2 linked regions of the Homo sapiens genome follow. The protein of the gene in region 1 binds, or shares a complex with, the protein of each later gene. Each region holds a gene or a part of one and is shown on either strand. Other genes may lie near its edges. The genes, in order: FRAT1 and GSK3B. A codon is read from its position in the direction of its gene.

Region 1 (16,932 bases):
AGCTTTCACAGTGTTCAAATGGAGCGCACCTCGGAGTGGAAACCTCTCTGAGCTTCCATCTCTAAATGAGGCGGTAGCATCAGACTGCTGAAAGCTGAGCTCTCCGGGGGCTGATGGTCTGTGATTACTGAGCATTGGTAGAAGTGGGGGCTAATTGAGTGAGTTAGTAATTTCGTTGCCAAGGTAACTCTTTCCTGATTGGAAGGAAGGGATCACAGGTTTCAACATAGACTTTGCTAGATAGGAAAGTGGTGTCTGATCTTCGCTCCAGCTTTCTGCATCTGAGCTGGAAAAAGAGCAAAAACGGGTAAAAATTGAATCCAAATATTGTCGGATGTATGCCTAATTTAGAATGAAATCTTGGGGTGGCAGACTCTGGAGTTCTCTGTGAGGTGTGGCATTCTTTTCTCTAAATCACTTATTTGCCAATGTATGTGTCACTTTGTTTCATTCCATTTGTAGCTTTGTTCTCATATCTCACCCAGGCCATTTTCTGTGGCCAGCTGTCTTCATAGGATGCTGAACATTTTGTAAGGAAATGGCATTCCCTAACTCAGCCTAGGAACTTGGAGCAGAATTTTCCAGGGTTCCAATGGCAGGGTCACCAATTTGGGCAATTGTAGGGATGTCATTCCCATGGTAGCCTATGTGCAGAGTTGTGCAGTGAACAATATTGGACCATGTTTGATGATATGGAGCCACTGGAAAGAGCCCTGAGTTGGGAGCTGGGAGACCTAGGTTCTAGACTCTGCTAGGCCTCTGGCTTCATAAACAACTTTGGTAGGTCATTCTTCCCTGCTCACTTCCTTGGACTATTTTTCCACCTATAAAATGGTCTAATATGACTTTTTTTTTTTTTTTTTTTTTGAGACAGAGGTTTTGCTCTTTTTTGCCCAGGCTGGAGTGCAACGGTGAGATCTCAGCTCACTGCACGCTCCACCTCCTGGGTTCAAGCGATTTTCCTGGCTCAGCCTCCTAGTAGCTGGGATTACAGATGCCCACCACCACGTCCAGCTAACTTTTGTATTTTTAGTAGAGACGAGGGTTCCCCATTTTGGCCACGCTGGTCTTGAACTCTTGACCTCAGGTGATCCACCTGCCTCGACCTCCCAGAGTCCTAGGATTACAGGCATGAGCCACCACGTCTGCCCCAATATGACTTTTAAAATACTTTATGTAAATCCTGGCTGGGCGAGGTGGCTCACACTTGTAATCCCAGCACTTTGGGAGGCTGAGGCAGGTGGATTGCTTGAGCCCAAGAGTTTGAGAACAGCCTGGGCAACATGGCAAAACCTTGTCTTTATAAAAAATTTTAAAATTATCCAGGCATGGTGGCACGCACCTGTAGTCCAATTACTCAAGAGATGGGAGAATCACTTGAGTCCAGGAGGTGGAGGTTGCAGTGAGCTGAGATCTCACCGTTGCACTCCTGGGTGACTGACTGAGACCCCGTCACAAACAAACAAACAAACAAAAAACCCCACACTTTATGTAAATCCTGACTTATCCCAAAAAAAGTATTTTGGGGTGAATAGTAAAACTTGGCAGGATTTGGCTGGGTGCGGTGGCTCATGCCTGTAATCCCAGCACTTTGGGAGGCCGAGGCGGGCGGATCAGGAGGTCAGGAGATCGAGACCATCCTGGCTAACGCGGTGAAACCCCATCTCTACTAAAAATACAAAAAATTAGCCGGGCATGGTGGCGGGCACCTGTAGTCCCAGCTATTCCAGAGGCTGAGGCAGGAGAATGGTGTGACCCCAGGAGGTGGAGGTTGCAGTAAGCCGAGATCATGCCACTGCACTCCAGCCTGGGTGACAGAGCGAGACTTCGTCTAAAAAAAAAGAAAAAACTTGGCAGGATTTGAAAAAAAAAAAAAAAAAAAAAACAGGCCGGATGCGGTGGCTCACGCCTAAAATCCCAGCACTTTGGGAGGCCGAGGCAGGCGGATCACCTGAGGTTAGGAGTTCCAGACCAGCCTGGGTAACATGGGGAAACTCCGCCTCTACAAATATACAAAAATTAGCTGGGCGTGATGGCGGGTGCCTGTAGTCCCAGCTACTCAGGAGACTGAGGCGGGAGAATCACTTGAACCCAGGAGGTGGAGCTTGCAGTGGGCCGAGATCACGCCATTGCACTCCAGCCTGGGTGACAGAGCAAGACTCTGTCTCAAAAATAAATAAGTAAATAAGATAAAAAATAAAAACACAGATGAACGGTTACTGGATTATAATGTGTTTAGAGTGCTAACTTGCTTTATGTAGAGAGGCTTTAGTTTTTCCCAATTTTCCTTTTTTAGGAGTGGGTTGTTCTGCATGGGCCCTAAGGTTGAGTCTGAACTTAACCAGTCATTCTTATTACAAGAAGCTATGCACAGTCGGTGCAGTGACATCAAATCATAGCCTATTTCAGGATGGAAAGCCCTGGATTGCTCATAACCCCTTGACCTTGGATAAATCGTACATCAACTAAGAATGGGAACTGGGGACTTCAGGGCTACTCCCATGCCAGGGGACATCAGCACCTGGCCACTTTCCCCTCATGCTCAGCGCCCAGAGGTGGTGCCCACTACACTATTGGGGGCTCCTTTTCCTCAGTTTGTATTAGAGCCTCCATAGTTACCCTTCCCATGCTGGAGAACACTGGACTGAGGCCCCCACAGCCCTTTCTGGGCATGTTGTGGGAAATGGCAGGCTTGGTGTGTTCTGAAGGTACTCCTCAGAGACCATCAGCGTCTGTGTGTGAATTTGAGAAAATGGGGCATTGAACCAAAAAGGAAGTTAGAAAATCAGGACTCGAAGTCATAGAACACTCCAGAAAGCAGATTTGGGATCATGGCATGCTCTTGTTTTGTGGGAAAATGAGGACACCTGGGACACCGCCACCTGGGAAGGAAGGGGTAGGGACTAGATACTGTTCATCTGCAGCATGTGCCAGTCACCATATGCCTTTTATTAATTTATTTTTTTGAGGCAGGGTCTTGCTCTGCCACCCAGGTGGGAGTGCAGTAGCTCAATCATGGCTTACGACAGCCTCAAACTCCTAGGCTCAAGCAATCCTCTTGCCTCATTTATTTATTTATTTTATTTTATCTTATTTGAGACAGAGTCTCGCTCTGTCGCCCAGGCTGGAGTGCAGTGGCGCGATCTCAGCTCACTGCAACCTCTGCCTCCCAGGTTCAAGCGATTCTCCTGCCTCAGCCTCCTGAGTACCTGGGATTATGGGCATGCACCACCATGCCCAGTTAATTTTTGTATTTTTAGTAGAGATGGGGTTTCACCATGTTGGTCAGGCTGGTCTTGAACTCCTGACCTCGTGATCAGCCCTTCTTGGCCTCCCAAAGTGCTGGGATTGCAGGCATGAGCCACTGTGCCCGGCCATTTATCTATTTATTTTTGGAGAGGTGAGGTCTCACTATGTTGCCCTGGCTGGTCTTGAACTTCTGGGCTCCAGCAATCCTCCACTTTAGCCTCCCAAAGTGCTACTAGGATTACAGGTGTAAACTACTGGGCCTGGCCCACCTTTTATTTCATTATCCCTGTTGTACGGATGAGGAAACTGAAGCCACAGAGGTAGAGCAACTTGTCCAAGGTTCCCTTCCCACTTCAGAAGTGGGCTTAAACTCTGGGTACTCTTTCCTCAGAGGGAGGAAATTAGCTCCTTCCATGAGGGAACAGACTGAAGTAAGTCAGAACCATAAGGATAGACATGGCCTGTTATGTCACTGCTTAGGGACAGAATGGTATAAATGTGCCAGGGGCAAAGACAGGAGTCTTTTGTAAGTTTCCACCCAGCTTTCCTACCACCAGGCTCACATTGTGAGCAGTCTCCTAATCAAGAGCTGCCCCAGCCTTAAGGCCCACCTTGTGGAACAAGTGCACTTAATGGCCACGGTGAGAAAGAAGAAAAAAAGAAAAAGAAAAAAAAAAAGATAAGCCTCCCAGTTTGCAGTGACTGGCTGATCTGATGTCCTTTGCTAATAGAGGCAGCTTTATAACACATCTCCATCACTGACTAGTAATCCAAAAGGCTCTGAGGTTTTAACGAATGGGATTGGTCCAAAACCTGACCTCACTTTCATTTAATTTCATGCCAGCTCCAATACACACCCAGCTGCGGAGACCTTGTCTAGCTAGTGAGCTGCTCAGACACAAAGGCGCTCTAATTACCATCCACAAGCCAGGCTGACAGAGATTTCAAGTGTTTTCATGTTTATGGAGATCAGAGAAATGTGTTCTGTACATCTTTTTCACTGATGGCAAGTATAAAATAAAACCAAACAAAAAACCCAACACATTTATTCAAAGCAGGCATTTCAGTTAAGTTAAAATCCTATAATCAGGATAGCCACAATTCCAGACACTCCGGTGCGAAGTGTAGATATGTCAGTAGCCACATCTGGATGATGAACAAGCCATTGACTATAAAAACGAGAACAACAGCACAGTCTCAGCGCCTTTAGAGTGAGTGAACAGTATGTTCCAAGCACTTCACCATGGTTCACAATGGCAAAGCCTGCAGCTTCTCCATTTGGAGGGTCACATTTTCTACTCGGTTTCCTGCACTTACAAAGGCCAGCTGGCATGGCTGGGGGAGGGGCAGAGGGAGGAAATCAACTCGTCTATCCAGGGAATTGCAGCTGTTATTGCAAATGGCCCCGGAGAGCCCATTATAAGCTGCTGTGCTAGGCTGTGTGTCCCTGGAGTGTCCATCACATGGCGTCTCCCTAGCCCCCAACCCAGGCCCCCAGGATCCCAGAGCCACCCGCTTGAGTAGGACTGCAGAGCCGAGTAGGAGAGGAGGAACCCAGGGCCCGGTCTCGGGAGTTTCCGTGAAAGCCCGGAGCGCGGCCAGGGGCGGTGGTCGCCTACCGAAGCACAGCCGCCCAGCACGTCCGCGCTTTCCCACACCCGCGGTGGCGGCGACGCGCGTGTCCTCAGGAGACTCCAGCACTTGCAAAACACTGCGCTCTTCTCCGAGCACCGGCAGAACCTGGCTACTCTGTCCCGCAACCCAGTGCGTGCCCAGGAAACAGTGACCTTGAACCGAGGAGAGGCGGGCCGGCTCTGAAAATACACTTTAGACAGGGCGTGGGGTTCACTCCGCGCCTCTCTACCCTTCCACCACCATTCAATACTCCCCGCCCCCACCTCCTTTCCCCACCCGTGTCGTACAGCCTTCCCCCACCACTCTGAGAAGAGAGACAGTTGCAAAGAGAGCGCAGGGGTTAACTCCTATTCAACCCCCAAAGGGTCCCTTCATGGCACCGCATGTTTGGTATTAAGCAGCACCTCCAAAGACACAAGATGGTTTTTTTAAGTCTGGCAGATTGGGCTGCACCCTGAAATTATCTACTCATGTTCTCCTCCCCCAAAGTGGATCAGGAGCCAGCCCTGAAAAGGTAAAGCAAGTAACTGGCATCATCCTCCGTGGTTCCGGCGCACCGCGATCCGGAGAAGCGTGGATTGTGGCCACATGGTCGCGGGGCTGGAGGGCACTGAGAGGCTGCGAGGAAATGCAGGCTCCGCGGCCAGGTCGGGTCACGCCAAATAAGGAGTCCTACTGACTTGTACGTTTGAGGTGCGCTCTGTAAAATCTGCCTTAAATAGGGCCAAAGTCCTTCATTCCAAATATTTTGGCCCTCAACCCCAGTTACCCGCGAAACACTCGCGATTTTTCGGTTCCTCGTCATTAGCTTTTTACTCTCGCTTCCAAAAGCCAGAGTTCTCCACCAGCCTGAGTAGAACTGCAGCCCTCAAGGGAACCCCTTGCCCTCCAGTCTGAGGCTGGCGCTGTGGCCACCCCGGGCGTGTTAGCTGCCAGGCACAAGAACGCCGTCGCCAGTTCTGAGCTGCGCCCTCCCGGAGGCGCCAGGGTCACTGCAGGCCGCGCGAGGGCTGCGAGGCGAAGGGGGTTCATGCACCGGGGCCGACAGAGGTCCCAGGAGCGGGCGTTGGGGAAGCTTTGCACGTAACTGCAGCCGTCGCGAATGAAGCCTTCGCACGGCCTCCTTGATGAGGTTTCCAGAGAGCACTAGCTGCTGCAGAAGCCGGTGCGGGTCGTCGTCGCCTGTGCGGGTTTCTGGTTGGGACCCGCGTCGCTGCTGCAGGCGGCGGGAGGCGGCGGCGCCCCGGAGCCATCCTCGCCGGCACGGACCCGACAGCGGCTGCGGGATGCCCTGCTTGCCAGCTCCCGGAGGCCCATCAAGGTCGGCCTGAGGGGGCAGTGGGGACAGCGCGCTGGGGCCTGTGGCGAGCTCGGCCACGCAGTAGGGCGCAGCGCGGCCCCGCACGCGGCCGCGGTCCCCCAGGGCGCAGCGCAGGACCCCAGGGGGCGCCGGGCCCACAGTCTCCGCCAACGCGGGCGGCAGCAGCAGCGGCACCGCCGGGGACCTGGCCTTGTCCGCCGGCACCGCCGCAGCCAGGGGCCCCGGGGCCCGCAGCGGCGCCCCCGGGGGCCCGCACGGCGAGGCCGGGCTGTGCTGCGCCGCGTCCAGCTGCAGCGTCTCGCCGATCTGGGCCACCAGCCGGTCCACCTCGCCCGAGCTGCCCAGCGCCACTGACTGCTGCAGTAGGAGGAAGCTGTCCTCCTCCTCTTCCTCCCCCTCCGCCTCCTCGCCGGCTTCCTCTTCCTCCTCCCTCCGGCACGGCATGGCCCCCTGTCTGGGCACCCGGAGCTGTGCGGGCGTCGCTGGGGGCTCGGCTGCCGGCGGGCGCGGTGGGCCGCGGCGGAGCGGGCGCGGAGCTGAAGACTAAGTCTGGACCGGGGCCGGGGCGGACGCGGAAGCCGGAGCCCGCCAGGCACTCTAGCCGCGCGCCTGCAGCCGCGGGAGCCGGAATCCTGCCGGCTCGGGTTGATTTGTAAACAATGGGTGACGTCACGTCGGGCCCTACCACCGCGCCGGGGAGGGGGTGCTGTGCCGCTGGGGGACGGCGCTTCTGTGGGATTGGGGGTCTGGGTGAAGCCGGACTGCCTTCTGAGCTCCTTCGCTCAGGGTGCTGTCTGCAAGGGCGCCCTGGGGACCTGATCCTGGCTCCCGCAGTCGGGCGCGATTGGCATTTCCAGAAATGGGCACCAGCGTGAACCCTGTTGGTTTCTTCCACACACAAGCAAGCACGCACACTAACACACACCCACCCACCCACACACCCCTTCTCTCCGTGCGTCAACTCAACCGGTTTTTAGCGTTTGCGCTTTTGAGGTCCGGCATGCGGGCGTCTGGTGAGGATGGAAAGGAAAGGGAGTCAGGCTAGGGATTTGTACGGAGATTAGGGAAATGAAGCTGACGGGAATGGAAAGGAAGAAGGGGACCTTGTCGTTCGATGGAGGTGGCAGAGTTGGAAATGGCAAAGAAAGGCCACAGATTAATGTTTTTTGATCGAGATCCTGGGCGGATGGGGGCCTGGACTGGGGTTGGCATTGCTGGAGAGGAGGTTGCTAGTCTTTTTGTTTATTTGTTTGTTTGTTTTTTTGAGACGGAGTCTCGCTCTATCGCCCAGGCTGGAGTGCAGTGGCTCGATCTCCACTCACTACAACCTCCGCCTCCTGCGTTTAAGCAATTCTCCTGCCTCAGCCTTCCGAGTAGCTGGGATTACAGGCGCCCACCACCACGCCCGGCTAATTTTTGTATTTTTAGTAGAGACGGGGTTTCACCATGTTGGCCAGGCTGGTCTCGAACTCCTGACCTCAGGTGATCCACCCGCCTCAGCCTCCCAAAGTGCTGGGATTACAGGCGTGAGCCACTGCGCCCGGCCTAGGTTGCTACTCTTTTTGTTTTGTTTTGTTTTTTTGAGACAGAGTTTCGCTCTTGTTGCCCAGGCTGGAGTACAATGGCGCAATCTCCGCTCACCACAACTTCCGCCTCCTGGGTTCAAGCAGTTCTCCTGCCTCAGCCTCCCGAGTTGCTGGGATTACAGGCATGCGCCGCCATGCCCAGCCTAATTTTGTGTTTTTAGCAGAGATGGGGTTTCTCCATATTGGTCAGGCTGGTCTGGTACTCCCGACCTCAGGTGATCCACCTGCCTCGGCCTCCCAAAATCCTGGGATTACAAGCGTGAGCCACCACGCCTGGCTATAGGTTGTTAGTCTTAAGAGGGGCTATGTCCAGAAAGTTGTTTAAAAAAAAGCCTCAGACCAGTAGGGGGGATGGGCTCTGAGGAGGTACGTAGTAGCAGAGAAAAATACCTGTTTGGATGAAAATGGAGATACGCTTCCTTCCTTCCTTTCTTCCTTTTCTTTCTCTTTCTTTTCTTTCTTTGACAGAATTTCACTCTGTCACCCAGGCTGGAGTGCAGTGGTGTGATCTGGCTGATTGCAGCCTTGACTTCCCAGGATCAGGTGATCCTCCCACCTCAGCCTCCCGAGTAGCTGGGACAATAGGCACGCGCCACTACACCTGGCTAATTTTTGTATTTTTAGTGGATACAGGGTTTCGCCATGTTGGCCCGTCCGGTCTCAAACTCCTGGACTCAAGCAATCCCTCCTCCCGAAATGCTGGCGTTACAGACATGAGCCACCGCGCCCAGCCTGGAAGCAACTTTAAAATTCTGAGCATGATATAGAAAATAGGATACAAAGAAAGAAATGAGCCTGGAGATCCAGATAAATAGAAAACGAGGGTCTTGTTGGGCAGTTCCAACGATAATAATTATAGGAGCAAACCTTTAGGAAGGGATGAGTGCAGGAAAGAGGTAGGGAAGTTGGTTTAAAAAGAGTTGGGTTTGTTTTTGTCAAGTGTGGAGGAAAAAATGTAAAAACAGAGGAAGAGACAGTTTAAACAAAGCCATTGGATTTCTAATCTACGAAATCTGGATTTCTACAGGGTGTCATAAGGTTCATCACCTTGTTTTTGTGGATTCCTTAGGATTTTCTATATAGAAGATCGTGTCATCTACAAATAGAGATAGTTTTGCTTCTCTTCTTTTTCTTTTTTCTTTTCTTTTTTTCTTTTTTTTTTTTTTTGAGACAGGGTCTCATTCTGTGGCCCAGGCTGGAGTGCAGTGGCATGATCTCTGCTCACTGCAGCCTTGACTTCCCCAGGCTCAGTTGATCCTCCTATCTCAGCCTCCTGAGTAGCTGGGACTACAGGTGCAAGCCACCATGCCTGGCTAATTTTTGTATTTTTTGTAGACCCAGGGGGTCTCACCATGTTGCTCGGGCAGGTCTTGAACTCCTGAGCTCAAACGATCCGCCCACCCCAGCTTCCTAAAGTGCTAAGATTACAGGCATGAGCCACAGCACCTGGCCCTGTCTTATTCCTGATCTTAGATGAAAACATTCAGTCTTTCACAACATTAGGTAGGATGTTAGCTGTGGATTTTTCATAGATAGTATTTATCAGGTTAAGAATGTTCCCTTCTATTCCTGGTTTGTTGGGCATTTGTTGTTGTTGTTGTTGTTGTTGTTATTGTTGTTGTGATGGAGTCTTGCTCTGTTGTCCAGGCTGGAGTGCAGTGGCACAATCTTCGCTCACTGCAACCTCTGCCTCCCGGGTTCAAGCAGTTCTCCTGCCTCAGCCTGCTAAGTAGCTGACACTGCAGGCGTGCACCACCATGCCTGGCTAATTTTTGTATTTTTAGTAGAGATGGGGTTTCACCATGTTGGCCAGGCTGGTCTTGAACTCCTGACTTCAGGTGATCCGCCTGCCTCGACCTCCCAAAGTGCTGGGATTTACAGGCATGAGCCACCAGACCCGGCCTACTTAAAATTTTCAAATGAAAATAATTAGTAGCAGTTTACAATTTGTGCATTTTTATCTTTGGCTCACAACTTATAAGCCTCATATATTGTTGTGGGCATGAAAAATGGTACAACCACCTTGGAAAAAGGCCTGACAGTTTCTTATAAAATGAAACATACACCTGTCCTGGAACACAGTTTCAATCCTGGATACTTAGCTAAGAGAAATAAACACATGGGCCCACATCAAGGCCTACAGGGAGGTGATCATAGCATATTTTTTTTTCTTTTTAATTGAGACAGGGTCTCCCTCTTTTGCCCAGGCTGGAGTGCAGTGGCACGATGTTGGCTCACATCAAAGGAGTTTTATTCATAAAAGCCAAAAGTGAAATGGCCCAAGTGTTCATCAACAGGTGAATGGACAAACAACCTATTGTACATTCACACAGGATGATGACAGAAAACAGTTCAGCAACAGAAAGGACTGAATATTGCTGCATGCAGTAACATGAATGAAGCTTAAAAACAGTATGCTAAGTGAAAGAAGCCAGATAAAAACGGATATATGTCATATGTTTCTGTTTATATGAAGTTCTAGAACAGGGAAAGTAACTTACGGTGGGGAAAACATCAGAAGACTGGTTGCCTTTGGAAAAGGTAGAGCAGGGGCAGGACTGACACTGTGACACTGAACAGACAGAGGGAACTTGCAGGAGGGTGGACATGTTCTAAATCTTGATATCTTGATTTGGGTTTCATAGGTTTAGGCATGTGTTAAAACTCATTGAGTGGGCTGGGCGCGGTGGCTCACGCCTGTAATCCCAACGCTTTGAGAGGCTGAGGTGGGCAGATCAGCTGAGGTCAGGAGTTTGAGACCAGTCTGGTCAACATGGTGAAACCCCGTCTCTACTAAAAATACAACAAGTAGCAGGGCATGGTGGCTCATGCCTGTAGTCCCAGCTACTCAGGAGATTGAGGCAGGAGAATTGCTTGAGCCCGAGAGGCAGAGGTTGCAGTAAGCCAAGATTGTGCCACTGCACTCCAGCCTGGGCAGTAGAGTGAGACCCTGTCTCAAAAAAACAAAAAACAAAAACAAAACAAAACAAAACAAAAAAACAAAGAGAAAAAAATTGTAGATTTTACATGAAGAGAATAAATTGTAAAGAAAGCTTGAATTATAGTAATAGACATGCTGATGAGTTTGGAGTGAGGTGTACTGATGTTTGCAATTTATTCCAAAGTACAGTAAAATGTGAGAAGGATTAATATAGATGGATTAGAAGGATAGTTAGACAGGTAGATATGTGATAAAACATGTATAGTAATATGTTAATGTTACCATATGACCCATCCATTCTACTTTTAGCTATATACCAGAGAAAATTGAAAACATATGTTCACATAAAAACGTGTACACAAATGTTGATAGCAGCATTATTCATGATAGTCAAAAAGTGCAAACAACTCAGATGTTCATCAGCTGATAAATGGATGAATCAAATGTCGTATACTCATACGATGGAGTATTATTCACCATAAAAAGGAATGAAGTACTGATACATGCTACAAAAGGAATGAATGTTGAAAACATTATGCTGAGTGAACAAATCAGACAGGAAAGGCAACATATTGTGTAATTCTATTTATATGAAACGTCCAGAATAGACAAATCCATAGAAACAGAAGGTAGATTAGTGGTTGCCAGGGGATGGGAGAAGGGGGGAATTAGGACTAACAGCTAATGGGTAAGAGTTTTCTTTTTGGGGTTATAAAAATGTTTTGAAATTAGTGGTGATGTTTGTACAACATAATGAATATACAGTACTAAAAACTATTGAAGTGTACACTTTAAAATGTTGAATTTTATGTTATGTGAAATATATCTCAATTTTTAAAATACTAGGATCTAGGTGTTGGGTAACAGGGTATTCTTTCAATTTTGTTGGCTGTTTGAAAAATTTTACAATAAAGTGTTAGAAACAATAAGCCATAGAAAAGGGGAAATTGGCTGGGTGCAGTGGCTCAGGCCTGTAATCCCAGCACTTTGGTAGGCCGAGGTGGGTGGATCATGAGGTCAAGAGATCGAGACCATCCTGGCTAACATGGTGAAATCCCATCTCTACTAAAAATACAAAAATTAACTGGGTGTGGTGGCGCACACCTGTAGTCCTAGCTACTCTGGAGGCTGAGGCAGGAGAATCGCTTGAACCTGGGAGGAAGGCGGAGGTTGCAGTGAGCTGAGATCACGCCACTGCACTCCAGCCTGGCGACAGAGTGAGACTGTCTAAAAAAAGAAAAGGGGGTCTGGGCGTGGTGGTTCACGCCTGTAATCCCAGCACTTTGGGAGGCCGAGGCAGGCGGATCACGAAGTCAGGAGATTGACACCATCCTGGCTGACACAGTGAAACCCCATCTCTACTAAAAGTACAAAAAAAAAAAAAATAGCCGGGTGTGGTGACATGCTCCTGTAGTACCAAGTACTTGGGAGGCTGAGGCAGGAGAATGGCTTGAACCTGGGAGGCAGAGGTTGCAGTGAGCTGAGATCGTGCCACTGCACTCCAGCCTGGTGACAGAGTGAGACTCTGTCTCAAATTTAAAAAAAAAAAACAACAACACACACACACACACACACACACACACACACAAAATTAGCTGGGCATGGTGGTGGGCACCTGCAATCCCAGCTACTTGGGAGGCTGAGGCAGGAGAATCGCTTGAACCTGGGAGGTGGAGGTTGCAGTGAGCCGAGATCATGCCCTTGGGCGCCAGCCTGGGCAACAAGAGTGAAACTCCATCTCAAAAAAAAAGAGAGAGAGGTTACGGGACTCAAACTGAGATGCTAAGAGATGAGGATGAGATATTAAACACCTCTCAGTAGGCCAGGTGCAGTGGCTTACATCTGTAATCACAGCAGTTTGGGAGGCTGAGGGGGGCGGATCACCTGAGGTCAGGAGTTCGAGACCAGCCTGGCCAACATGGTGAAATCCCATCTCTACTAAAAAAAAAAAAAAAGAAAAAAACATTAGCTGGGTGTGGTGGCAGGCCACTGTATTCCCAGCTACTTGGGAGGCTGAGGCAGGAGAATCACTTGAAACCAGGAGGTAGAGGTTGCAGTGAGCCGAGACTGTGCCACAGCACTCTAGCCTGGGTGACAGAGTGACACTCCACCTCAAAAAATAAAATAAAATAAACGTATCTCAGTAGATTAGCAGCTGAGGAAGCCATGGAAGGCAAAAGTTAAAAATGTCCTGAAGCTGCTGACTGGGCAGGAAAGATAAACCACTGGTTAGACAGTGGGGAGTGGGGGTGGGAGTTAGAACAGTTGGGTCTGGAAGCCAGTAGTTAAAATGACTAGATGGCTTCAGAGCTAACACTGATGGAGCAGTGTAGAATGTTTTGCTATCTGGTGCAATCTCGGCTCACTGCAGCCTCCGCCTCCGGACTCCAAGCGATTCTCCTGCCTCAGCCTCCTGAGTAGCTGGGATTACAGGCACCCGCCACCATGCCTGGCTCATTTTTGTATTTTTAGTAGAGACGGGGTTTCACCATGTTGGCCAGGCTGTTCTCGAACTCTTAACCTCAAGTGACCCGCCCGCCTTGGCCTCTCAAAGTGCAGGAATTATAGGCGTGAGCCACTGCACCCGGCCTTTTTAAAGTATTTTTAACACAGCATTGCCTGAGGATATTTTGTCATTTATAAAAGGAGAAAGGTCTCTAGGTTAGGGAGATAGTTCAGAGGGATGCACCCCTCAGGTTGGAGGCTGGAATAGTGTACCGGGTTGAGTAGCTTCCCCTAAATTTCTATCTACCCAGAACCTGTGAGTATAACCTTATTTGGAAATAGCGTCTGTGCAGATGTAATCAAACTAAAATGAGGACATACTGGATTAGGGTGGGACCTAATGAGGGGACTGGTATCCTTACAAAAAGAAGGAAATTTGGACACAGACACATGAGGAGAACACCATGTCAAGCATGTTGCCACAAACCAAGAAACACCAAGGACAGAGAAGCATGAGATTATTTTTTTATGGTTACAGCTCAGGCTGGCAGCTCAGTGATTGAGAACCTCTGTGATGGATGTTGGGTCATGACAGACCCAGCAAGATCTACCATTACAACAGGAATCAAGTGTGAATAGGCCAAGCACGGGGCTCATGCCTGTAATCCCAACACTTTGGGAGGCTGAGGCCGGGGTATCACTTGAGCCCAAGAGTTGGAGACCAGCCAACACAGCAAGACCCCATCTCTATCCCCTGCAAAAGAACGAGGAGATGGGAAGACAAGGGGTCAATAAATCTCTCATGGGGTGTGTGTGTGTGTGTGTGTGTGTGTGTGTGTGTGTGTGTGTATGCATATATATATATATATATACATTTTTTTGAGACAGGGTCTCACTCTGTTGCTTAGGCTGGTGTGCAATGGCACAATCATGGCTCACTGTAGCCTCCACCACCTGTGCTCAAACAATCCTCCCACCTTAGCCTCCCAAGTAGCTGTAACCACAGGTGTGCACCACCACACCTGGCTAATTTTTGTGATTTTTTTTGTAGAGACAGGGTTTCGTCATGTTGTCCGGTCTGGTCTTGAAGTCCTGGGCTCAAGTGTTCTGCTCAGCCCATCCTCCCACAGTGCTGGGATAATAGGTATGAACCACCGTGCCCGGCCCCCTCATGGTATGTTGATCATAGGTAAAAGACGGCCATGTTAGGACCAAGTCTCAGGGACCATGATGATGACTCCATGTAGGCTGAAGCAGTAAGTTCTCCCATTTCTGGGACTGTGCCATCCTTGCTACCTGGGTGACAATGGGAATGGAAAAGTAGATGCTCAAACTTGCCGCATGATTGCTTGTAGGTGTCTGGAGGAGGCAGTCTTTTTTTCTTCCTTTTTTTTTGAGGCAGAGTCTTGCTCTGTCACCCAGGCTAGAGTGCAGTGGCGCCATCTTGGCTCACTGCAGAGGAGGCAGTCTTAGATCCGCAGAAGCATGGTGTCCATATGGATGCCTGGGACAGCTGTGGTATCGACAGAGCTGTAAGTCAGGAGACACATGGTTGGGTATCATCATTCAGTATTTTTTTTTTAAGACCAGTCTCACTCTGTCACCCAGGCTGGAATGCAGTGGCTAAGTCATGGCTCACTGCAGCCTCAACCTCCCAGGCTCCAGTGATCCTCCCACCAGTAGCTGGGACTATAGGCACTCACCACCATGCCTGGATAATTTTTGTATTTTTTGTAGAGACAAAGTCTCACCATGTTGCTAGCCTGCAGTATTTTTTTTTAATTCTAGTTTTACTTATTTGAGTAGACACTACAGCCACATAGTTCAAAAGTCAAAAGGCAAACTATACTACATGTGTTGTGTGTCTTTTCAAAGATAGTTTATTTATTTATAGTCTGCCTCCATTTTACACAAGTAGTAGCTATAGCAGAGGCTGCTGTTTGCCTCCCAATAACCACTCTCCTCTTTAATAAACCCCAAATTGTAGCTGTACCAGAACCATAAGAACCCATCTCTATCCCCTGCAAAAGAACAAAGAGATGGGAAGACAAGGGGTCATTTGTCATCTTCTCTTGCAGCCAAATGGGGCCATGTGATTAAGTTCTGGTCAATGAAATATAAGTGGGCTATGTATGTATATAAATATATATATATATTTTTTGAGACAGAGTTTCGCTCTTGTTGCCCAGGCTGGAGTGCAATGGCTCAATCTCGGCTCTCCACAACCTCTGCCTCCCGGGTTCAAGCGATTCTCCTGCCTCAGCCTCCCAAGTAGCTAGGATTACAGGCATGCTGCCACCATGACCGGCTAATTTTGTATTTTTAATAGAGACGGGGTTTCTCCATATTGGTCAGGCTGGTCTCTAACTCCTGACTTCAGATTATCTGCCTGCCTCGGCCTCCCAAAGTGCTGGGATTACAAGCGTGAGCCACCGCGCCTGGCCAAATGGGCCATATTATGTGATACCTTTGGAAAGTAACCCTGTGAGGAAGGGGGCAAGCCTGTCTCTTTTTCTTTTATTTTGTTGCCTGGATCTTTTGAAGGCCCCAGACATGGTCCTGGACTGCCTACCTCTGGATCTTTTTTTTTTGAGATGGAGTTTTTGCTCTCATTGCCCAGGCTGGAGTTCAGTGGCCCGATCTCGGCTCACTGCAACCTCCGCCTCCCAGGTTCCAGCCATTCTCCCACAGGTGCACCACCACACCCAGCTAACTTTTTGTATTTTTAGTAGAGATGAGGTTTCATCATATTGGCCAGGCTGGTCTTCAACACTTGACCTCAGGTGATCTGCCTGCCTTGGCCTCCCAAAGTGCTGGGATTACAGGCGTGAGCCACCGTGCCTGGCCCTGTTTGTTTGTTTTTAAAAACACATTTTTTGCTTTCAGCTTTTGGCTCAGAAGAGGCCAAGGTGCAACTTTCTTTGGTCGTCCTGAATCCAGGTTCATCCAATACCAGCCGCCTCCACCATGCCGCCGAAGTTCGACCCCAACAAGATTAAAGTCGTATACCTGAGGTGCACCGGGGATGAAGTTGGTGCCACTTCTTCACTGGCCCCCAAGATCAGCCCCCTGGTTCTGTCTCTAAAAAAGGTTGGTGATGCCATTGCCAAGGCAACAGGTGACTGGAAAGGCCTGGGGATTACAGTGAAACTGAACATTCAGAACAGACGGGCCCAGATTGAGGTGGTGCCTTCTGCCTCTGCCCTGATCATCAAAGTTCTCAAGGAACCACCAAGAGACAGAAGAAACAGAAACACATTAAACACAGTGGGAATATCACTTTTGATGAGATCATCAACATTGTTTGACAGAGGCGTCACCAATCTTTAGCCAGAGAACTCTCTGGAACCATTGAAGAAATCCTGGGGGACGGGCACGGTGACTCACGCCTGTAATCCCAGCACTTTGGGAGGCCGAGGCGGGCGGATCACGAGGTCAGGAGATTGAGACCATCCTGGCTAACATGGTGAAACCCCATCTCTACTAAAAATACAAAAAAATTAGCCGGGTGTAGCGGCTTGCACCTGTAGTCCCAGCTGCTGGGGAGGCTGAAGGGAGGCTGAGGCAGGAGAATGGCATGAACCTGGGGAGGCGGAGCTTGCAGTGAGCCCAGATCGCACCACTGCACTCCAGCCTGGGTGACAGAGCAAGACTCCGTCTCAAAAAAAAAAAAAAAAAAAAAAAATCCTGGGGACTCCCTAATCTGTGGGCCATAATGTTGATGGTCGCCACCCTCATGACATCACAGATGACAT
Region 2 (15,947 bases), on another chromosome or scaffold:
AGTTCAAATATTCTGATTCAACCTTCTCACCTTGATTATTTCTACCAACTGATCCACACCACTATCCCCTGGAAATATTGGTTGTCCTAGTAACAGCTCAGCCAACACACAGCCAGCAGACCATACATCTAAAGAGAAAAGAAAACGAAGCCTTATTAATACTTCATAGCTTGAGCTGAAAAGTGTTTGTATACGTTTTCTAATTTTACTTTGATCACAGAGTAAATATCACAGGAAAAGATTATACAATCCAAAACAGAGAAAAAGTCATCAAACTTCCTTAATGTACTTTTTAATTAAATGTTAAACTTACCAAAGAGGAAACCAGACCAATAAGAATATTCTAATAAAGGGTAAAGTCTATTATTATCAAATTTCAGGTATTCAAGTCTTCAAATAACTAGACAGAGGATTACAGTACCAAAGCTATGGCAGGACTATCTATTTATCTTACTTAAAAATAAGTCAAAGTGACACAACGTCTGCATATTAGTAGGTACTTACAGAGGAGCAGCAAGGAAAGGTTCAATCTCTCCCAGACACTGGGCTTTAAGTCAGTGCAAATTCTGAGGAACACTTTTAAGACTTTAAATGGTTGATTTTTATGTTCTACGATGACTGACAGAAAAATGTGCTTAAATATATCATTTTTAAATAAAATGGAATAGCAATGATGGAGGAATACATTTTACTTCATAAATTATAAAAATAATCCACTTTTAAGTCAAAATGAAAACCTCAATCCGGAGAGAAAACTCTAAAAATTAACTCAATTAATACACTTTAAAAATACTTTAAAGTATACATCCTGGTTTACCCAGGATAGTTATGGTTTATATGTTGTCCTGGGATAATTATTAGTAACACCTCTTTCTCTCTCAAAAGTATTATCGGATTAGAAGATAAACCGTACGGTCACTCTATTTTAAAGCCCGCTATTAAGACTTCCTACAAGAAAAGGCTGCTTTTTAGCTTCCAGATTTCTGAGATTCCTAGGTTTTTAATGTACCAACACTCAAGTGCTTTAGGGAGACGAATATGAATCATTGCTGGACTTTACCACCTACCAGTACGGAAGGAGAAGAAGGAACAGTAAATGGTTGACAACAAAAAATTTTAAAGGTCTGATGTGGTGAGATGTACTATCAAGAGAGACTGGAAATCGTTGCTCCAGTGACTACTTTTTATTGACCTAGAAAAATGACATAGTATCATTTAACAAACTCGAGTTGATTTTGTCCAGTCCTAACTTAATAACCAAGACATCTATTCTGCAAATATAGACCAAGAGTCCTATTTAATATATTAGGAAATTGCTAAATTAAGCACATATGAAAACTTGTTAGGGAATCTTTACTCAAAGCCAATAGTAATACTAACTGTTATAGTCAAGCGGAAAAGATGTATCTCCTTATTTATGTAAATGCTTATTTTAATCTAAGTTTTAAAACATCCCTTTACCTAGTTAATAAGATGGAAGGTAATATGCACTCAACTTTTTTCCTCTCTAATACGGAATGATTCATCTCAGATACAAGGCTGAAAAAATTGTAAGGGAATAATTATGCCTTCATAAAAAACAATAGGAAACACTTTCTTAGGTAAGATTTAGCTACAAATATGGAAGACAAAAAGTAAAACATCAAGGAATACTCTTGCCTAGAAGTTATCACAGAAGACTGACACTCAAAAGATTCAGGTGACAACTATACTAGCAGCCCTCAATTCATGTTACATCAGTCAAGTTAGTAAAAACAAGGTACTTATCAATCACTTTCTGGAGGACACTAAAATCTCTTCTGCTCTTACTTCAAAGGACAAATGGATGAAATTCTCCAGATAGAATAAAACTTCAACTAAATAGAAGGTACCGGAAAAATAGAAATAGTGCTTTGGCACACTGAATTTTAGTTAGTTGGGGTTAAAGCCAGAATAGCATTTTGTTTCATATTTAACTCGGGTTCATGTTAAAGTGATCTTTCAAGACCATCTAGTTTAACACACTTATTTCATAGATAAGGAAATTAAGACATGATAAAGTTAAACGACTTGCCCAAGGTAAAGGTACTGAATAGTAGAGCTAGGCCTGGAATCATTCTCAATTCCCAATCAAAACACCACTCTCTTGAATAACTGTCTCACTGTCACAGAATAACAGCTTCTTCAAGGGTCTGTCTGTAAGTTCAATTCCTTGTTCTAAGGAAGCCTTTTGTTCTCATTCTGCCATTTGTCAGTAAGATAATATAATCAGAGACATCAGCTTTACCTCTGGCTGTATCTAAATATGACAATAATCTTGTCAGAAACAGTTACTCTTTCATTTCAAACATTACTGTTAAAAACATTTAAAAATGTAACAATATTAGTATACTTTTTGGGAGGGTCTGTTTAAAAACATTACAGTCTTAAGAGGCAAGTATCCTAAGTTTATAATGGGAAGCCAAACCTAGGCTTGCTAGGGTTCAAAAGACTCCTGTTTATATAACTGTTCCTTAATGTGTGAGATGATGTGTTAACTTTTTGAGAACAATCAAACTGCCTTTATTTTAGGTGTTTCTGGCACAGCTCACACCAGTATCTTATATACAGATAATCAGTATCATATATTTGAATAAAATGTAAAGCAGCTGGAAAATCCAATGACATACCCAAAGACAAGGGGCTGAAATTTGCTCTTGGGGAGAGTCAAGTCTAAAAATGCCACAAAAGAATACCACCTTTCATTTCTACAGTATTTTCACTAACATTTTATTTAAGCCTCACAGCCACTCAGAAAAGAACTGTCAGTAATCTCCACTTTACTTCAAGTGACCTGACACTCAAACCCAGGTCGACCACAAGCAAAATATTCTTTGTACTATTTTTCATCTGTCCATTCATATATGCCATGTACCACAGCCATACTAAGACTCTGAGAATTACATACACATACATATACACATTATTATGCTCTCTACCCTCTGGTAAAGCAGATGTCAAAGTGTGGTCTACAGAGGACACTTTGTACTCTTTGCACCTGGGTCCTCTAGACATTTCTAGATGTCCCAGAGGGCAAAACTCTTTTCATAAGAATACACCTTCACTGGGTTAACATTTGTACTGAGGGTACAAAGGAAATGGTGGGTAAAACTGCTGGCCTCTTGGCAGAAATCAAAATGTGCTTTGGCATTTTGCCATTTGGCAAAATAAAAAATGATAATGTGTTTCTGATTAGGGTGTTTGCTTGTATCAGAGAATTTCTATTTATATCAAAAAGACAAAAAAACTGTCACAAGGTCTGTTCTATTTTTTGTTGTTGCTGTTGTTGTTTTGAGAGGGGGGGTCTCATTCTGTCACCGAGCTGGAGTGCAGTGGTGGAGTCTCAGCTCACTGCAACCTCTGCCTCCTGGCCTCAAGCCATCCTCCCACCTCATCCTCCCAAGTAGCGGGGACTACAGGGGCATGTCACCACGCCCGGCTAATTTTTGGTAGTGACAGGTTTTCACCATGTTGCCCAGGCTGGTCTCGAACTCCTGAGTTCAAGTGATCTGCCCACCTCAGCCTCCCAAAGTGCTGGGATTACAGGTGTGAGCCACTGCACCAGGCCAGGTCTGTTTTTTGTTTGTTTTGGTTTTCTGTTACTGTGGGGATGTTTTTGGTTTATTATTTGCATGCTTTTGTTTGTTTCTGGACTAAAGGAATTCTCTTCAGAAACAATATGTAAGAGTAAAATAATTTTGGTTTCCACTTGCACATCCAGCTTAAAGTTGCTCCTTGTTTGTTAGCTTCCTATTCATGTCCAGCTGATCATGCTCTCTCTGTTCACTCCTGGCTAGTGGGCTAAGATGTAGTAAAAGAGAAGGTCAATAATGATTAAAGCTAATGGTCTCTATTCAGTTCCTTCTATCACTAAACATCTTGGGTGACGACTTGAGAAGGTCAATGATGATTAAAGCTAATGGTCTCTATTCAGTTCCTTCTATCACTAAACATCTTGGGTGAAGACTTGAGAAGGTCAATGATGATTAAAGCTAATGGTCTCTATTCAGTTCCTCCTATCACTAAACATCTGGGGTGAAGACTTGAGAAGGTCAATGATGATTAAAGCTAATGGTCTCTATTCAGTTCCTCCTATCACTAAACATCTGGGGTGAAGACTTGAGAAGGTCAATGATGATTAAAGCTAATGGTCTCTATTCAGTTCCTTCTATGACTAAACATCTTGGGTGCATACTTCTGCAGAATCAGTGCATCTAGCAAAACTACTAGTGATTTAAGCTGATTTTATATTAAATAATGGAGATGGCATGAAGGAAATGTTAGCAATATGGCCATACTATCACTTTCATTATTAACTTAATGAAATAACATTAATTAATAAATTATCCAACTAGTATAATCATGCTCAGAAGTATTTCAGGAGGATTTTAAATAAGAAAGTAAAAAAAAGTTACTTAGAATTAATTTAAATTCTTAAGGTAAAAGCTATTAGCTTTATGATTCTAACAGTCCAAGGAAGAAAAATAGAATAGTAGGTATACCTTAAATTCTAAAAAGTAGAATTTGAAAAATTCTATACAGGCATACGTCAGAGATGTTGCAGAACTGGTTCCAGACCATAACAATAAGACACAATAAAGCAAGTCTCACCAATTTTCTGGTATCCCAGTGCATATAAAAGGTATGTTCACTCTATACTGTAGTCTATTACTTGTATAATAGAATTGTATAAAAACATAAATGTAATACATTAACTTAAACACACTTTATTACTAAAAAAAAATGCTAATGATCATCTAAGCCTTCAGTGAGTTGTAATCTTTTTGCTGGCAGAGGGTCTTGCCTTGATGTCGATGGCTGCTGACTGATCAGGGTGGCAGTTGCTGAAGGCTATACGATGTGGCTGGAGTAATTTCTTAAAGTGACAATGAAGTTTGCCACATCAACTGACTCTTCCCTTCATGAAAGATTTTTCTCTAGTAGGAGATGCTCTTTGATAGCATTTTACCCACATTAGAACCACTTTCAAAATGGGAGTCAGTCCTCTCAACCCCTGCTGCTGCTTTATCAACTACAATTATGTAATATTCTAAATCCTTTGTTGTCATTTCAACAATATTCACAGCGTCTTAACCACTAGTAGATTCCACCTCAAGAAACCACTTTCTTTGCTCATCCATAAAAGAAGCAACTTGTTTATGTTTCATCATGAGATTGCAGCAGTTCAGTCACATCTTCAGGCTCCACTTCTAATTCTAGTTCTCTTGCTAGTTCCACAACATCTGCAGAGACTTCCTTCACTGAAGTCTAGAATGCCTCAAGGTCACCCATGAGGCTTGGAATCAACTTCTTCCAAAATGTTGTTCATGTGATTGAGTCACAAATGTTCTTAGTGACACCTAGAATGGTGAATCCTTTCCAGAAGATTTAAAATTGACTTTGCCCAGATCCATCAGACTAATCACTATCTAGGGCAGCTATAGCCTTACAAATGTATTTCTCAACCTTTGGGTGACCAGTTGCACTGTCCATAAGCAGTAATATTTTGAAAGAAATACTCTTCTCTGGAGTAGTAGGTCTCAGCAGTGGGCTTCAAATATTCAGTGAACCATGCTATAAACAGATGTGCTATCATCCACTCATTGTTGCTCCATTTATGCAGCACAGGCAGAATACATTCAGCATCATTCTTAAGGGCCCTAGGATTTCTGGAATGGTAAATGAGCAGTGGCTTGCACTTAAAAGTCACCAGCTACATTAGGCCCTCACAAGAGAGTCAACCTGTCCTTAGAAGCTTTGAAGCCAGGCAATGACACTTCTCCTCTCTAGAAGAAGTCTTCCATCTCTAGAAAATCTAGAGATGAAAGTCCTAAACGGTATCTTCTTCCAATTCAGTAGAAGGCTATTTGGTCTCCATTAAAACTCTGATGTTTAATGTAGCCACCTTCATCGATGATCTTAGTTAGATCTTCTGGATAACTTGCTGCAGCTTCTACATCAGCACTTGCTGCTTGCCTTGCACTTTTATGGCATGGTGCAGCTTTTTACCCTTAATCCTCATGAAATAACCTCTGCTACCTTCAGATTTTTCTTGTGTAGCTTCCTCACCTCTCTGTCTTCACAGAATTGAAGGGAGTTCAGGCCTTGCTGGGTTAGGCTTTGGCTCAAGTGAATGTTGTGGTTGGTTTGATCTATCCAAACCACTAAAACTTTCCCTGTAACAGCAATAAGGCTGTTTCACTTTCTTATCATTCATCTGTTCATTGGAGTAGCACTTTAATTTCCTTTAAGAACTTTTCCTTTCTGGTCACAACTTGGCTAACTGTGTGGCACAATTTCGATATGCCTTCCTTGCTCAGCTTAATCATTTCTAGCTTTTGATTAAAAGTGAAAAATGTACCTTTCACTTGAACACTTAGAGGCAACTGCAGAGTTATTAATTGGCCTAATTTCAATATTGTTGTCTCTCAGGGAATAGGGAGGCCTGAGGATAGGAAGAGAGATGGGGAATGGCCAGCTGGTGGAATATTCATAACATACACAACACCGATCGATTAAGTTTGCTGTCTTATATTGTTGTGGTTTGTGGCAAACCAAAACAATTACAATAGTAACATCAAAGACCACTGATCATAGATCACCATAGCAGATACAATGAGAATGTTTGAAATGTTGCAATAATTACCAAAATGTGACACAAAGACATGATGACACAAAGACATGAAGTGAGCACATGCTCTTATAAAACTAGTGTGGGCAGACTTGCTTGACTCAGGGTTGACACAAACCTTTGAGAGGTTAAAAAAAAAAAAGCAGTGCCTGGAAAGTATAATAAAATGAGGTATGCCTATACATGTTTGCATCTCAAGCTTTAAGAAAAAAAACATTATGGGATATATCCATCTTTCCATGGAAATAAAAGTACAGATTAGTAGTACTAAATTACCAAAATCAAGAAGCAATTAATAATTATGAGCATTATATTCAGATTTGTACTTACCTATACTAGAGGTATAATCAGTGGCTCCAAAGATCAACTCTGGTGCCCTATAGTACCGAGAACAGATATACGAAACATTGGGTTCTCCTCGGACCAGCTGCTTTGCACTAACAGAAAAAAAATAAAAATAAAAAGCAGAAATTCTTTAAATCTAAACCTTAAAGAACTTAGACTGCTATCCTTTCACAGTATCAAATGATTTTATAAGATTCACATCATTTGAATCATATATGAAAAAGAAAATGTAAACTGTAACTATCTCTAATAAAAGAAATTTACAATTTTATCACCTTGCTCTGCAAAAAAGAATAGCAATTTTTAAAGAAAGCGTTTGTCACCTAAGAAGGCACCAAAAGCAAAAAAGGATAAGTGTTGAATTTCTTCTGATCCTCTGTTCCCCAAATTCCACCTCTAAAATACAAAGAAGCAAGGGCAGAAAAGAGGTACCTCCCCCACCAAAAAGCATGACAATGGATTCTAAGAATGAATACTCCTCACCCAATGTATTTCTTTAAAAAGGGTGAGAAACTGGCCACTGTCTTGCATTTTGACTTCTGACTCACGGCGAATATTTCAAGGCTTATAGACTCAATCTATTTTTCCATATCTTGGTCAATTTATTAACCACATAAACATTTATTACCCAATAAATTATAAACAGGCCCTTCAACTTCAGGGCAGAAATGATTCACTGCCTATAAATTCTAACTCTGCTATAGTAAGTATAATTGCATGTTTTCTTATTCCAATTTTCCTACTAAAATACTTCATTGCATGTATTTTAAATATGAAGTATAATAAATTACAATTAATTTCTTTTGAGATGTCGCCCAAGATAATCCAAAGACAGAATAAAATAAACTGCTGTAGAAGCCAGCCATTCTGACATACATTAATAATAAAGATAAATAAAGGGACAAAATGCAACAAAATCAAAACAGTAAAACAGTAAGTGCCAAAAAAAAAAAGTAAAGGTACTGGAAAACCAGGGTAAAGACAGATGAAAGTAGTCACAAGGATTTCAATGACTGGGATTTCTTTTCTTCCATTTATTTCTAGTCAATGATGACTCTAACCTTAACTTCTTTTTCCTTCATCACTAGTTTTGAAGTTTGTTTTTTAACCCTCTCCCCAAGTACTGACATACAATAACCATTTCATAAATTAATAAATACTAATCCCTGTTTTTAGGCTGCATGAAAATTATGACATTTAGTTTTCAGCATAATTGATAGGAGACTGTTATATCTTCTAAAGGATGCTTTTTAATTAACAAGATAGATGCTAATTATGTTCAGAAAATTCATTACGAGACAAAACGTTAATACCCAAGCTTTGTAGCCTGAAGTTTTTTCACTACCTGATGGAGCTACAAAAACGGAGCAGCCTCTCTTACAGAGGAGACTGGTTTTAACTACTTCCCAATATTGTGATCACATCTAGCTTTTTGTTCCTAAATAGCCCAACTAGTTCTTTAGCTACTTTTTGGCCCCTTTTCATCTAGTAAAAAAATAAGAAGAAAGTAATAGTATTTTGTTCAAATTACCAATCTGATAATGTACAGTCCAAAGTGTTTCCCAAACTCCATCTGACCAAACCAATTTTGTTAAAAACAAAAAAATCAGAGGGTTTATAAAAATGAGCTATCAAACAAGCGAAATCCCTCTTCCAAATTTATCAGAATAAAGCTATTTTATGTCCCAAGAGAATGGGCTGTACCAAGTGTTTTGACACTATATGAGAACAGAAGCTCTTCTAACCTTGGTGTCTCAGTCTGTCCCTACCAAGTCAGTCACTCTCAATGGTGAAGACACCCCATTAACAATAAAACATATCTGATTTGGGCAGTTTTTCCTATAGACAAGTAGTAGTGCTTTGTTTCAAACACCAGGTAAGAGTTTTACTATCTTTCACCCTTTTTAAAAATAGTTCAGGGAACAGAGTCATGGCCTGCAAAGTGATAGGTCATCTGAAATTAGAAAACAGTAAAATGAGGACAGTCTGAAAGAGGACACATTGTGAGACTAAGAAAAATTAACTCATGACAGAACAGATTTACTTATTTTTTAAAGGATCTGTCTCAAGAGAAGCCTGTGGAAAACATATCCTATGTTAAACCCCAAATTTAAACTGTGAATTGATGTAAAAGTATTACAAAGGGATAGGAACACAGGTATTAACAAGTGTGGGGCAATATGTTATCTATAGAGCTATGGTGAAAAGAATCTGTAACAAGGGTGAAAAAATTAAATTGGAGAGAATCCAAATTATGTAAAGATGTCTTAGGGACCATGAGGAGAGAGATTAGGTGATTACACCAGTGAGGAAGTAGCGGGGTAACTGCCTGAGTTACATGGGAATGTAGGCTTGACTACATGTTAAAAGGTTAGATCAGAGAGGCACAAAGTACTGAAAACTGAAAATGGAAAGAATAAAGTTGTATTACAAATTCACAGTATATTACCAAGAAATGAGCTTTTAAAAGCAGAAAGTTTGATGAAATTTGCAGGAAAAAGGGTGGAATAAAAGGTTAAATTATAGAGGAAAATGAAGAAAACACTGCATTGTTTTTTATCTCATCCCTGAATTGAGGTTAATTGTGAAGTTAAAAAGATACACAGGAATGTATAATAATCAATATTTTGAAAAAATTTAGTTCTTACTGAAAAAGGAGTATATATACCTAATGTAAATTCAAACAATACTAAAATACAATCAATGAAAAAGTGAGTTTCCCAACTACATTATATTCCCAAAGATCCTTTCTCAGGCAATCAAATATTATGGATTACGTACCATTTCAGAAATAAGCCACACATGTACTTGTGTATATATGTGTGTGTGTACATATATATATATATAGTCACATTCTGTATGTTTTTAAAACATAAAAGGTGGCATACAATACATATACTCTTGATCTTGCTTTCTTCATTTAATGTTTCCTAGACATCATTCCCTTTCAGTTCACAGAGAGTTGCCTCATTCTTTTTCATGGTTGCATGTATTACTCTGCATGTACCGTAATTTATTTAGCCATTTTCCTACTAATGGATGCTTATAAACAATGCTATAATAAAAATCCCTATATATACACTGTATTGTAAATATGTATTCCTAAGGAAATAATTCCTAAAAGTTAAACTGTTAAATGAAGGAGTATATACATTTATAATTTTGACAGAAACTAACAAAACTACTCTCACAGCTGCACTAGTTTATACTTCTTGAATAAGAATTACTGTGTTTAGGCTGATATTGCAAAAGGAATATATTTAAAAGAAGATAGTAGGGGGAGGAGGGGAAAAGGGAAGGGGCAGGGAGAGGGACAGTAGCTTACCTTCCAAAGTCACAGAGTTTTAATACAGCAGTATCAGGATCCAACAAGAGGTTCTGCGGTTTAATATCCCGATGGCAGATTCCAAAGGAATGGATATAGGCTAAACTTCGGAACAGCTGATACATATACAACTGGAATAGATAGTAGAAATTAATTAAATACTTCCTATTCTAAACAAATCAGAATCCTTAAGCAGTCAATAAAGTAACAGATTCTCAGAAAAGAACAGGTGAAATGCTATGGATTACTGGCACTCAATCTTCCTTTCACAAGTTTTGTGTCACTTCTGTATTAATTAGCTATTTCTATATGAATTAGCTAAACTGTCATTAACCATATGTACTATTCGCTTCATTCTTTAATAACTCAAAAGAAGAAAATTTTACAATGTGCTTTATAACTTTTAATTTTACTAACATCTCACATTACAAGCCTGCTAAGATGGGCTTTTATTTAAAACACAAATGAAAAGCTCAGAGAGGCACCCCAAATCATGAATAATCAGTAACTTTGGGCCAGAAACCAGGTCTCCTGATTTTTAAGTTTATAGTTCTTTCTAGTAGAGCATGCTGCTGAATGTAAACGTATTTCCAAAGTGTGATCTTTAGAATATTCTTCTGAGATGTCAGCCTCCAAGGTGATTGATACAGTGGTCTAGGAAAACTCATGTGGACTGAGAAAATCTGTAATCACTGCTCTATCAAGACATCAATAACCCTGTTAGTAGCATCACCATTCTTCCTGTTAATATCCTTCAGAAAAAGTATAATTCAAAATGACATTCAAAAACAGATGCCTGACTATTGACATCATCTTTCAAAAGAGAAGACTTTCTCAGTTTTCTTACCAAAAAGATACACTGAGAAACTGGGTCTGCATGGAGTAAAGAATCAGACTCTTGACTGGAGGAGAGAGAAACTTCATGGACGAAGAGAGTATAATTTAAACCTTCTGTTTATCTCAAGGTCAGTGTTCTGATTCACTTTTAAACTTTTCTGGCTGTTTACCTTCTGACCTCTACCCCAAAGTTACACCATGGACAGAATTTTTGAAATGAGTCAAACCAAAGATAATAAATATCTTGGTAAAAAAACAATTAAAAAAAAAGATACTTAAAAGTCTAATGAAGCATTGACATATGGCACCATCTTTAAAAGCTACTGCTAAGGCTTAGGTTAATTAAAGTTAACATGAAACCTACTTTCATTCTAAGAAGCATGGTGAAAACTGCAGACAGCTGAATTTTAGTACATCCTTGAAGTTAATGTGAACTATTAGCTGGAAAAGTTTATGTTTTCTTTAAAATGAAGCAAGATGTAAACTGTACAGATAAGATCTTTTATAAGGTCAGCATTTTGCCAACAAAGTTAAAATTAAGGCATTTAGGTATCCATGTAACATTTTTTAAAAACTTCATAGTTCTATTATTGTACCATCATTCACAGAATCCATTTCTAAGTCCTAAAGCTTACTGTAGGAGTTTAATTCATTACCACTAAAAAGATAACCTCCCATAAGAAACTGAGTTCATAGGCATAAATTTACTAAAAAAAGAGATTTTACTGTGTCAGGGTATTGATGTCTAGGTCTGCAAGAATCAGTGAAAACGAGTTTTCTTTTTTTTTTTTAAAAAAAAAAAGCTTAATCGTTTAAATGAGGTTAATTTTAAGATGTCTTTTTACTGTATTCTTTCATCTGAAAGATCTACTCTATCTTCATTGTTTTGAAAAGTTTATCTAGAAAAGTCAAGATAAAGAATGAAATATGCAATATTATATATTTGTTGTTATTTCACTTTGTAAAAGTGTATTTATAAGAAAGCTGAGAGGCTTTCTAGACTAGAATGATAGCAAAAACAAGAACAGAAAAACAACTTATCATGGGCTGGGCACTGTTCTAACTGCTTTATGTGTATTATTTCACTTACTCCTTATAATAACCTTATGTAATAAGTACTAATATTATTACCATTTTAAATATAAAATAACTGAGGCCCAGAGAGATTAAGCAACTTGCTCAATATCACACACACACAATATTCTGTAGTGGTTTGAGTAAGTGCTTCTCTTTCAATTACTATTTATGTATTTTGCCATATTTTATTAAATAAAGGTGTAAAATATAATCATTAAATAGCTTGGTGGAGGCCGGGCGCGGTGGCTCACACCTATAACCCTAGCACTTTGGGAGACCAAGGCAGGCGGGTTGCCTGAGCTCAGGAGTTCGAGACCACCCTGGGGGCAACATGGTGAAACCCCGTCTCTACTAAAATGCAAAAAATTAGCCGGTCTTGGTGGTGCACGCCTGTAATCCCAGCTCGGAAGGCTGGGGCAGGAGAATTGCTTGGACCCGGGAGATAGAGGTTGCAGTGAACCCAGAATGCACCACTGCACTCCAGCCTGGGCCACAGAGCGGAATTCTCTCTCTCTCAAAAAAACAAAAACAAAACAAAACAAAAAAAAAGCAGTTTGGTGGCTAAATAAAAGACTAGAATGATTAATTCTTAGAAACTCAAATATAATTAACACACTTTAAAATATAACAGATTTAACATATACTAAGTGCCAAACCAAGAAAAGCATTTCTGCCTATTTGCCTATTTGTTTAGTTAATTCTTGCAACCACTCTGAGATACACATTATCCCTGTTTTTACAGAAGATATTGAGGTTCAATGAAAACAATTTTTTTTATTTTTCATTTTATTCAAAGTTGGTACAAAACTGTTAACATTTCCATAAAACAATTACTATGCTTCAGTTACAGGACAAAATATCACAGAAAGGAATGTATTTTGCAGTTGAGCACAATTTGAACAGTTAGTTATATTTAACTCAAATCCAATGCCCTCTTCTCTGTGCCATAATATCTGAAGTAATAAAATAATAAAACAATAGAATACATGTTAAAACAAGTAATAACAATTTTGTTCATGATTCAAAAAATGCATCCAACTCTCTTGTGTGATCAGACCCTGTCCTTAAACATGTATTTTCAATTAAAAAAAAATTAAGTTCACAACAATGATTTGCCAGTCATCTGTTTTAGAGTTGCATTTTAAAACCTACTTAAGTTCTGAAATATACTCATCAGAAAAGCAAAGGTGCTCAGTTTTTAACCTGTGTATTACTCATAGAAAATACTCAACTCTCCCAGAAAAAGTGAAAGGCAATTATAAAGAAATGCAGTTGCCATTCTGGTAACATGTATGCCAAACAAGTCCTTATCAGATGATGAGGTTCATGAAGGCAAGAGTTACTTGCATTTACTACTTTTATATCGCTCTCACAATCTAACATTTTTCATACAATAGGATTACAATAAAACTATGTAGAATGACTACGTGAAGGAGATCAACTCATAACTCATCAATTCCAGACACTGTTTTTATCTTTTCAGATAAAAGGGATCGATGTCCCCAAAGAATAATGCCCAGAGCCAATAGATCTGGCCTCTGAAAGCGCTGTGGTTACATAAGAAAAAAAAAAAAGAAAAAAAAAAAAAAGAAAAATCATCCCTTTTCCCACAAGGGGGAGAAAGAAAGGAGTGCTAGATTTCTCTCTGTATGCCAACTTCAGTATGTACAATAATTTTATTTTCTTTTTTAAAATACAGGATGCCAGATATCTAGCTCAACTATTTGCTGGCAAAAATACCGTAAGTGCACAGGGTTGTTCACTATAGCAAAAACCAAAAAAACCACAACAAAAAACAAGAGGAAAACAATATGTGCATTATTGGTCACTGGGTGAATTAACTAGAATACAGCCACATGATGAAGTAATATGGTAGCCATAAAGAAGGTGACACACACACACACACACACGAAAATATGGACTGATCTCTAGGACATATTTTTAACTGAAAAAAAAGAGAAAAATGTGTACCTTATGTAACCATTTATATAAAAAGAGTAAGAATAACTGCATGTTTGCTTATTTTAAAAATGGTAGGATAAATTATGAACACTTAAAAAATACTTAACACTGGTAGAGGAAAGGAACAGAGCAGAGGGAACAGAGATAAAAGCTGAACTTCTTTGAACATACCTTGTTTTGTCAATCTTGCTTTGAACTATGTATAAATATTTTATATGAATTTTAAAGTAAATTTTATTTGAAAATTTAGAAAACCACAATCTATAATAAAAGTAAACTGAAACAAACAAATGCTTAATGGAACATCATCACACAGAGAGGAATTATTCAATTTTTTTGAGATGAAGTCTTGCTCTGTCACCCAGGCTGAAGTGCAGTGGCATGATCTTGGCTTACTGCAACCTCTGCTTCTCAGGTACAAGTGATTCTCCTACCTCAGCCTCCTGAGTAGCTAGGATTACAGGTGTGCTCCAGGATGCCCAGCCAATTTTTATATTTTTTAGTAGAGGTGGGGTCTCGCCATGTTGGCCAGGCTGGTCTTGAACTCCTGACGACCTCTGGTGATCTGCACACATCAGCCTCCCAAAATGCTGGATTACAGGCATGAGCCAATGTGCCTGACCTCAGTGTTTCTTTAGAACAGAGAAATTTGATTGTTCATCCCTAATGGGATCTAATGGGTAAAACTGAGCTGTGCTTAGATCTTAAATTATTTTTAGCTGGTGGTCCTAGTGTTGGAATTGTTATTCTAAGATGGTTATGTAGGGTGCTGGGTAGAATAAGTTATTAATTATACTACTATCATTGAGAAATGAAATTTTCAATGTAAGAGAAAGGAAATACAAATATAAGATTATTACAGTTAAGTAAAAACTCATCGATTTTATTTGAAAGTATCAGTATGAACTCATGGTGTATTTATTTTTGGAAAAAAAGAAGATGCATTACATCTGAGAAAATTACCCACATATTTCCTAGCTCTGTTCGCTAAAAAGACCCAGAAACAATAACCAATCCCGTGACAATTAGCACCTCTAGCATCCAGACTGTGGTCTCTAAATACCACCTCCCACTAAAAGAACAAGGTCTTCTTGAAGAAAAGGTTGATTCTAAGTCTGAGGAAGAAATGTGTAAGATGAACTTGGAATACTTTGTCATGTTAGAAAGCAAGGAAACGGTCAAATATTATTAAGACTCACATAAGATACTTTAAAACAACAAAACACCTCATTCATTGGTACCTATGGAGGATGCTATGGAATAGACTATTATAAATTTTCGTAAATAAAGAAAAGGGATCAAATACATTTCCTGTCTTTTTATATAAACTATATCTCAGGGCACAAATAGTTGATATGGGAAAATCTCTCTTTATGAAACTATTCCAGCTTATAAATTAAGAAGGAATAATAACAGTAGACTATCAACATTTTGTAACCTTTAATGAATTAATGAATTTAGGCAGTGATCATCAATGGCTACTAACGTCAGGAAAAGAAAGACATTATGTTCTTCCTTCAGAAAGCACTCAATACTACAAATGAAGTGGTCCTGACTCCTACCAAAAATATATTTAATTATCAGTTATCTAACCACCAATTTGCAGGAAATATAGATGACCAAAGAACATACTAATTACACTACAGAAATTCAGCAAAATCCAGACCAAGAAAGTATAGGTCAAATGATCCGGTTTCTTTAGCAACAAAGTTCAAGAGAGAGAAAAAGAGAACCTATGGATTAAAAGAAACA

What was found.
Region 2: the proteins of FRAT1 (region 1) and GSK3B are in contact, whole or in part, in a crystal structure (PDB 5OY4), measured with the Homo sapiens proteins. Residues at the interface, in NP_005470.2 of Homo sapiens: His200 (codon at 6,052), Leu202 (codon at 6,046), Leu203 (codon at 6,043), Leu206 (codon at 6,034), Val207 (codon at 6,031), Ser209 (codon at 6,025), Gly210 (codon at 6,022), Asn211 (codon at 6,019), Leu212 (codon at 6,016), Ile213 (codon at 6,013), Lys214 (codon at 6,010), Glu215 (codon at 6,007), Ala216 (codon at 6,004), Val217 (codon at 6,001), Arg219 (codon at 5,995), Leu220 (codon at 5,992), His221 (codon at 5,989); in NP_001139628.1 of Homo sapiens: Tyr216 (codon at 7,049), Ile228 (codon at 7,013), Phe229 (codon at 7,010), Ser261, Gly262, Val263, Asp264, Leu266, Val267, Ile270, Lys271, Thr275, Pro276, Ile281, Tyr288, Thr289, Glu290, Phe291, Lys292, Phe293, Pro294, Ile296.

The regions. Positions count from the first base shown.
Region 1 is NC_000010.11:97,309,171-97,326,102, reverse strand, and holds FRAT1 (proto-oncogene FRAT1), read right to left. Parts: upstream 6,833-16,932; 5' UTR 6,650-6,832; coding exon 5,810-6,649; 3' UTR 4,188-5,809; downstream 1-4,187. UniProt on the Homo sapiens protein: Positively regulates the Wnt signaling pathway by stabilizing beta-catenin through the association with GSK-3. May play a role in tumor progression and collaborate with PIM1 and MYC in lymphomagenesis.
Region 2 is NC_000003.12:119,905,725-119,921,671, forward strand, and holds part of GSK3B (glycogen synthase kinase-3 beta), read right to left. Parts: intron 10,451-15,947; coding exon 10,320-10,450; intron 7,087-10,319; coding exon 6,980-7,086; intron 129-6,979; coding exon 31-128; intron 1-30. UniProt on the Homo sapiens protein: Constitutively active protein kinase that acts as a negative regulator in the hormonal control of glucose homeostasis, Wnt signaling and regulation of transcription factors and microtubules, by phosphorylating and inactivating glycogen synthase (GYS1 or GYS2), EIF2B, CTNNB1/beta-catenin, APC, AXIN1, DPYSL2/CRMP2, JUN, NFATC1/NFATC, MAPT/TAU and MACF1.